2 linked regions of the Homo sapiens genome follow. The protein of the gene in region 1 interacts with the protein of each later gene in a pairwise test. Each region holds a gene or a part of one and is shown in the gene's direction. Other genes may lie near its edges.

The links.
Region 2: the proteins of RAB6A (region 1) and TMEM132D interact in a two-hybrid assay, tested with the Homo sapiens proteins (one large-scale study listed by BioGRID).

The regions. Positions count from the first base shown.
Region 1 is NC_000011.10:73,751,055-73,754,665, reverse strand, and holds part of RAB6A (ras-related protein Rab-6A), read left to right. Parts: intron 1-3,611. UniProt on the Homo sapiens protein: The small GTPases Rab are key regulators of intracellular membrane trafficking, from the formation of transport vesicles to their fusion with membranes.
Region 2 is NC_000012.12:129,893,963-129,897,573, reverse strand, and holds part of TMEM132D (transmembrane protein 132D precursor), read left to right. Parts: intron 1-3,611. UniProt on the Homo sapiens protein: Regulate neuronals morphology via inhibition of the WAVE regulatory complex (WCR), a complex that controls F-actin cytoskeletal dynamics.

The DNA.
Region 1 (3,611 bases):
ATTACAGGCATGAGCCACTGTGCCCAGCCTTCATGTTAACATCATTTCTGAAATGAAAAAGAACTATTTTCCAAACAGATATTTAGTGAGAGTGACATTGTTTTACATATTTGCAAATCTCTTTAATGTCTGACTTAATAGAGGACAATTGGATTTGCATAGCTGCTTATGCATTCAATCCTGTAATATTACACATCATATAGGCACGGGGAAACTCCACAATACATTTCAAGAGAGTAAGAGTGAAAAATTCAAATAACATCTTAATCTTATGAAAATGGTTTTGACATCCAGGAGTTTGTGGACCTCCCCAAAGGTCTTGGGAGATCCTAAGGGGTCAGTAGACCACTCTTTGTAAACTGCTGGGTTAGGTAATATCAAGTCAATTGTATCTCCTGTTATAATGTTGCCAGTTTTTCATATCTTGTTCTGAAGCCTTAAAACTGCGTGGTACATACAGTTAATGATTTAGAGCACTAGAGGACTGGTAGAGATGGAGAGTAAGAGTCTAGGTTTCATGTTTTAGCAGTGGCTACTGACCTTTGGCAGATTACTCAACATGTCTTTATGCCCCATTTTTCCTTATCTATAACATAAAGATAATAGACCTATCATAGAGTTATTGTGACATTTAAACTAGTCAAATAATGCAAAACATTTAGAAGAGTGCTGGGCACATGAGAAGTGCTCAGAAAGTGTTTTAATTTAACAAATCTTTATTGAAAATTGCTACAGTGTCAGGTGGTTTGGTAGTGCTTACTTTTAAGGAATTTACGTTTTATCAGGGAAGAAATACACAATACTTAATACAATATAGCATGATGAGTGCCACTGCTTTTAAAAGTAGAGCTAAGGCTGGGCGTGGTGGCTCACGCCTGTAATCCCAGCACTTTGGGAGGCCTAGGTGGGCAGATCACTTGAGGTCTGGAGTTTTTTTGTTTTTTTGTTTTTTTTTCAGACGGAATCTCGCTCAGTCACCGAGGCTGGAGTGCAGTGGCGCAATCTCGGCTCACTGCAAGCTCTGCCTCCCGGGTTCATGCCATTCTCCTGCCTCAGCCTCCGGAGTAGCTGGGACTACAGGCGCCCGCCACCATGCCCGGCTAATTTTTTGTACTTTTAGTAGAGACGGGGTTTCACCGTGTTAGCCAGGATGGTCTCGATCTCCTGACCTCGTGATCTGCCTGCCTCGGCCTCCCAAAGTGCTGGGATTACAGGCATGAGCCACTGTGCCCGGCGAGGTCTGGAGTTGGAGACTAGCCTGGCCAACATGGTGAAACCCTGTCTCTACTAAAATACAAAAAATTAGCTGGGCATGATGGCGTGCATCTGTAATCCCATCTCAGGAGGCTGAGGCAGGAGAGTCACTTGAGCCCGGGAGGCAGAGGTTGCAGTGAGTGGCCATGTTGGCCAGGTTAGTCTTGAACTCCTTGCTGTCTCACCCAGGCTACAGTACAGGGGTGCCATTATAGCTCACTGCAGCCACGAGCTCCTGGGCTCAAGTGATCCTCCCACCTCAGCCTCTGGAGCTGTTGGGATTAGAGGCATTCGCCATTGCGCTCGGCTGATTAAAAAAAATTTTTTTAGCAAACGAGGTCTTGCTGTGTTGCCAGGCTGCTTTCCAACTCCTGGCCTCAAGTGATTCCCGCCTCAAGCTCCTGACTCTGGAATTACAGGCATGCACCACCTCACCTGGCTTGGACTTTTTATTAGACTTCCTGATTTTATTTCATCTGGTCTCTTTCATTTCCTTAAGCTTCTGTTTTAATTCTCATAAGATTTTTCTCAACTTTCTTCCATTTTTTTATTATTTTTTTCTGCTATCATTTTAATTTTTTTTTTCTTTTTTTTGAGCTGGAGTCTTACTCTGTCACCCAGGCTTGAGTGCAGTGGTGCAATCTCAGCTCACCGCAACCTGTGCCTTCCAGGCTCAAGTGATCCTCCCACCTCGGCCTCTTGAGTAGCTGGAACCACAAGCATGCGCCACCAAGGCCGGCTATTTTTTGTATTTTTGGTAGAGATGGCGTTTTGCCATGTTGCCCAGGCTCATCTCGAATTCCTGAGCTCATGCGATCTGCCTGGCCTCGGTCTCCCAGAGTGCTAGGATTACAGGCATGAGCCACCGTGCCAGTTCTTATCATTTTAATTTCAAAGAGTGTTTTTGTTCATCTTCTGAATGTTCCTTTCTGTAGCATCTGTGTTTTTGTTTTTTTGAGACAGAATCTTGCCCTGTCACCCCGGCTGGAGTGCAATGGTGCAATCTTGGCTTACTCCAACCTCTACCTCCCGGGTTCAAACGATTCTCATACCTCAGTCTCCTGAGTAGCTGAGATTACAGGCATCTGCCACCATACCTGGCTAATTTTTGTATTTTTAGTAGAGACGTGATTTCACTGTTTGTCAGACTGGTCTCGAACTCTTGACCTTCAGTGATCTGCCCCCTTGGCCTCCCAAAGTGCTGGGATTACAGGTGGGAGTCACCACACCCAGCCTTCTGTAGCATCTTTTTAATTCCCAATTTTTACCTTTTCTTGTCATTTTGAAGATGTTAATAAGATACATGACTTTTTTCTTCCTGCATATTTAGTTTTTGTAAATTGTTTTTCATCTCTGCTTGTTTTAGTTTCTCTATTTCCTGTTTGATGTGGTCCTCAAAAAACTAGTGTTTCTTGGCTATTTGCTTCTATTTAAGAGGTGAGCACTGAGAGTTGTGTTTTTGTTTTTGTTTTTTATGCTCTTGTGTGGGTTTGTGGGTCTTTACTGCAGAATGATCTTGCTGAGTTCCTTTTTGGGAGTCTCTGATGTTAGGTCTTTAAGTCTTTTTGCTGGTCAGATTCCCTGAAGAAGAATTACTCAGTGCACTGCTGGAGAGAATCTTGGTTGTCAGTGTTCTTGGAGGTGAATGGAGAGAGGGTTTGAAGTCATAACATACAGTAAATGCATTTAGTCTCCTTGCTTTTAATATTGTTTGTACTCTATCCCTCAGCTGTACCTTGTAATCCCTAGTACAGAAACCCCGTTTTTCTTTCTCAGCAGCATTATCTTCTAATTTTCAGCTGTGTTGAACAGAAGAGGGAATAGAAGAGAGTGTTAATCTACTTGTTAAATAGACTTTCATCCCTTCCTTCTGTTTTTAGCTCCATCTTTACCTTTATTTCTAGATGTACTTGGCCCAGACAATTCCTAAGTCAATGGGGGTTCTGTGGTCCAAATCAGCTTTCTCAGCTTTCCCCATTGTCGGTTTAAAATTGATCATTATTGAGTCTTTTAGGTCAATTACTACTTTTCCATTTGCTTTCTACTTTCTAACTTGGATGATTCAGATTTTCCGAGAACCAACACTTAATACTTGCTTAGGGTTGGTTAGTTGGTTTGTTTTTTGAGACGGGGTCTTTCTGTGTTGCCCAGGCTGGAGTGCAGTCCATTCACAGGCATGATTATAGCGTACTACAGCCCGGAACTCCTGGCTCAAGTGATCCTCCTGCCTCAGCCTCCTGAGTAGCTGGGACTATAGAGTCAGGCCAGTGAGCCTGACTCTTTTCTTTTTTAAAAGTACACTTTGGCCGGGGGGCATGGTGACTCACACCTGTAATCCCAGCACTTTGGGACACTAA
Region 2 (3,611 bases), on another chromosome or scaffold:
TTATTTTTATTTTCCTCCTCCCCCACCTCCCTAGGTCAAGCTTCTTAAAGAACTTGCAGACATGCCCAGTGGACTGTCTTCAGGACCTGTTTATTCATCTATGTCCCTAACATGTGTAGGGTCCTGGGCAGGGAAGACTAAGACATGGCCTCTGGTCTTCCAGGACCAAAAGTGTAGGTGACACATCAGTGGTCTCTGGGAAATTATAAAGAATGAGGAAGAAGCATGCGGAATGAAGACACAGACTCTTCCTGTTTGCAGAAGAAGGATGCTTGATGCTGTGAACATATGCGTTGTTGATTTTGATGTTTGACGCCAGACAGCACACTTGAATGAATTGTGGAGATGATATGGTGCGGCCTCTCACAAAACGAAGAGGAAACCAGCATGGATTTGTTGTGACATGGGACCAAAGACTCGGAATATTTTTAGATGACTTTGTCATTTATTTAAAAGAAAAATCTGCTGTAGGAAGAATTAAGGGGTACATACCACAGTCAGAGGCTAGGTGCTTCCGTCACCTCTGTCCTTAAACATTGGTTTCAGGAGTCACCCAAGGTGCACCCCCTCCATAAATTAAGAATTGATGGAGAAGGAAGGCCCTTGACCTTGAAAGTAAACAAACCTGTGGCATGCATCTGAAAAGCGACTGAAGTACATAGTTTTAGAACAGATCAGTCAACAGTTATAAAGGTAAAAAACATGCCTTTGAAAGAGAATTCAAATAGCCACTTCTCCTCCCTTAAGAAGTAAGTAAAGTATATAAAGTAAGTAAAGTATATAAATAAAGGGAAATTCAGATGTACATTTGGAAAGACAAGAGGTTCCACTCTTAGGAAGTAAGTAAAGTATATAAATAAAGGGAGATTCAGATGTACATTTGGAAAGACAAGAGGTTCCAAAAAAGTGTTTAACTTTTAGTGACATTAAGTTATTCTTTTCACGAGAGTGACATTAAATGTTTATGTTTATGGGAATCTCCCTCTGCAGATTCACTAAGAAGATGTCTGTCAGATTTCATTGTTGTTATTTGTTTGTTTGCATTTTGGTCAGGAAAGCTATACTGGTAGATGGGAAGACGCTTCAGTGATAAAATAGCCTGCCGAGACTCAAAGAGTGTTTGGCAGGATATTGTGGCAATAAAGTATTTTGATATCAAAACAGATGGCGACATTGCCCTGCCTGCTCTCATTCCCTGCTGCCCTGGCCTCTCCTTTCTCGTGCAGATGAACACCTGGCAGCCACTGCCTCTTGGAACAGCAGAAGGCACGAGACAGGAAAGTCAAGGCCAAGCATGATGGCTCATGTCTGTAATCCCAGCTCTTTGGGGGGCCCAGGTGGGAGGATCACTTGAGGAGTCCAGGAGTTCAAGACCAGCCTGGGCAACAAAGCAAGACTCCATCTCTACAAAAACAAAACAAAACAAAACAAAAAAAATGAGCCAGGTGCAGTGGTGTGTGCCTGTTGTCCCAGCTACTCTGGAGGCTAAGGTGGGAGGATTGCTGGAACCTGGATGGTGGAGGTTGCAGTGAGCTGTGATCATGTAATACACTCTAACCTGAGTGACAGAGTGAGACCCTGTCTCCAAACAAAAAAAAAAAAAAAAAAAAGAGAGACAGAGAAATCAAATTCCTGACTTTTGATTTCAAAAGCTGGTATCCAGCAATAGAGAAAAGATTTGGAAGAACCTATCTTCCCAGGCATATGGTTTCTCAGCCTTTCTCTTCTTCCTTCACCAAGTAATTTTTTTTTTTTACTAGGGGAAAGGGCAGGAGAATTTGGAGGGCAGCTTAGATGCTGGTGGGCTTTTCAGCTGCTCTGTGCCACGTCACTCCAATGACAAATTAAAAATATTCTAGATTGACTTCGTGAATATATTGGGAGAGCCACAAATGAAGACACTCTGTCCTAAATAGCCTGGAGATGAAGCAGAAGGAATGTTCGTATGAGGTGACCAGGCAGCATGCCCGAGCATGGCTCAAATAGCAGAATCTTTTCCTGGCAGCCAGGGCTGTGCAGGCATGGCTGAGGAAGCCCAATTGGCCCGAGGAGGCCTTGTGGTCAAGACCAGGGAGGCACAAACCATAGTCTGTGTGGACTGACCACAGGAGACAAGATATCATTTGTACCAATCACAAAGCCCTCCTGGTTGTTGTGGTCACTCCGAACCTCTCAAAACTTAGAAGTGATCCCTGAAATCATTGGGTGGGGTGGGAGTGTGGCAGTATCTACAGAGCTTTGTTTTGCTACTGGATAGAATGTGGAGTAAAGATAGAGATTTCAGTAACGTTACAAACAAATGAAGAGGTCTGTATTCGGTGCTTACTGATGCTGGGCACTGGGATTAGCGCTCACCCCAGCACTGTTGTCCACACAACGGTGACGTGTACCTGGGGGGTGCTATGCTTTGGTGGATTCCCAGCAGCTCAGATGGTAGCAGATGGTGTGGTATGAACCTTGAGCACGTTCCAAGGAGACCCCAGGACTCTGTCCCCAGCCCTGCCCAGGTGAACATTTGTATCAGAGGTGGCTGTCCAAACAGATGAGCTCCTTCGCGCAAACCTCAGAAGAGCAGCTACACAGAAGGGGTGGAGTGGTAAGGCCTTTGCGTGGCAGAGTTGTGACCAAAAGCTCACCTGAGATGAGGACAATCTAACATGTGAGACAAAGGGGATATTGCAACATGCTGAACGTAGATCACACACGCTGACTTGGGAGGTACGAGAGAGGAGTTTGAGAGGAACACGTGTAAAAAGACTTGGAGATTCGTATGAAAATAAGCTTAATAAGAGTTGACAGTCATGAAACTGCCAGAGGAAAAAAAAAAGAGAAACTACAAGAAACCAACAAGGAAGGTGCGAGCTCTGTGGGGTGTCTTGTCAATGTGTCTTATGGAAGCGGAGGCCTGGAAGGCCAGGAGCACTCATGAATAATCATAGTTTTATCATTATGGATGTGGAATATCCTCATGCTTTATCCTGACTCCACACCATCAGGACTCTGTTACATGAAGCTTCGAATTATCTTAAGAGACTTAGGAGTCCAGAGTTGTGCTGATTTTAGATGAGGCTGACCCGGGGTCTTTAAGGATCCCACCAGAACCTGCTTCATCTCTCTCTACCTTTCAGACCCTCTTTGTTTCTGCTCTACTGGTGGATAGGCCTTGATATCCCCTTGGCTGAGTCCCCTCCCAAATCTCACCTTGAATTGTAATAATCCCCACATGTCAAGGGTGGGACCAGGTGGAGATAATTGAATCATGGGGGGCGGTGTCCCCCATACACTCTCATGGAGTGAATAAGTCTCACAGGATCTAATGGTTTTATAAATGGGAGTTGTCCTCCACACGCTCTCTTGCCTGCCACCATGCAGGCTGTGCCTTTGCTTCTCCTTTGCCTTTTGCCATGATTGTGAGGCTTCCCAGCCATGTGGAACTATCAGTCCATTAAACCTCTTTCCTTTATAAATTACCCAGTCTTGGATGTGTCTCTTTTGGCAGCATGAGAACAGAATAATACAGGCCTGGACAGTGTGATGGACAAATGACTTCACGCCCAGCCTCATCTGATGCTGGTGGGGATCAGAGAAGGCTTCTTTCCCATTTCTGTGGA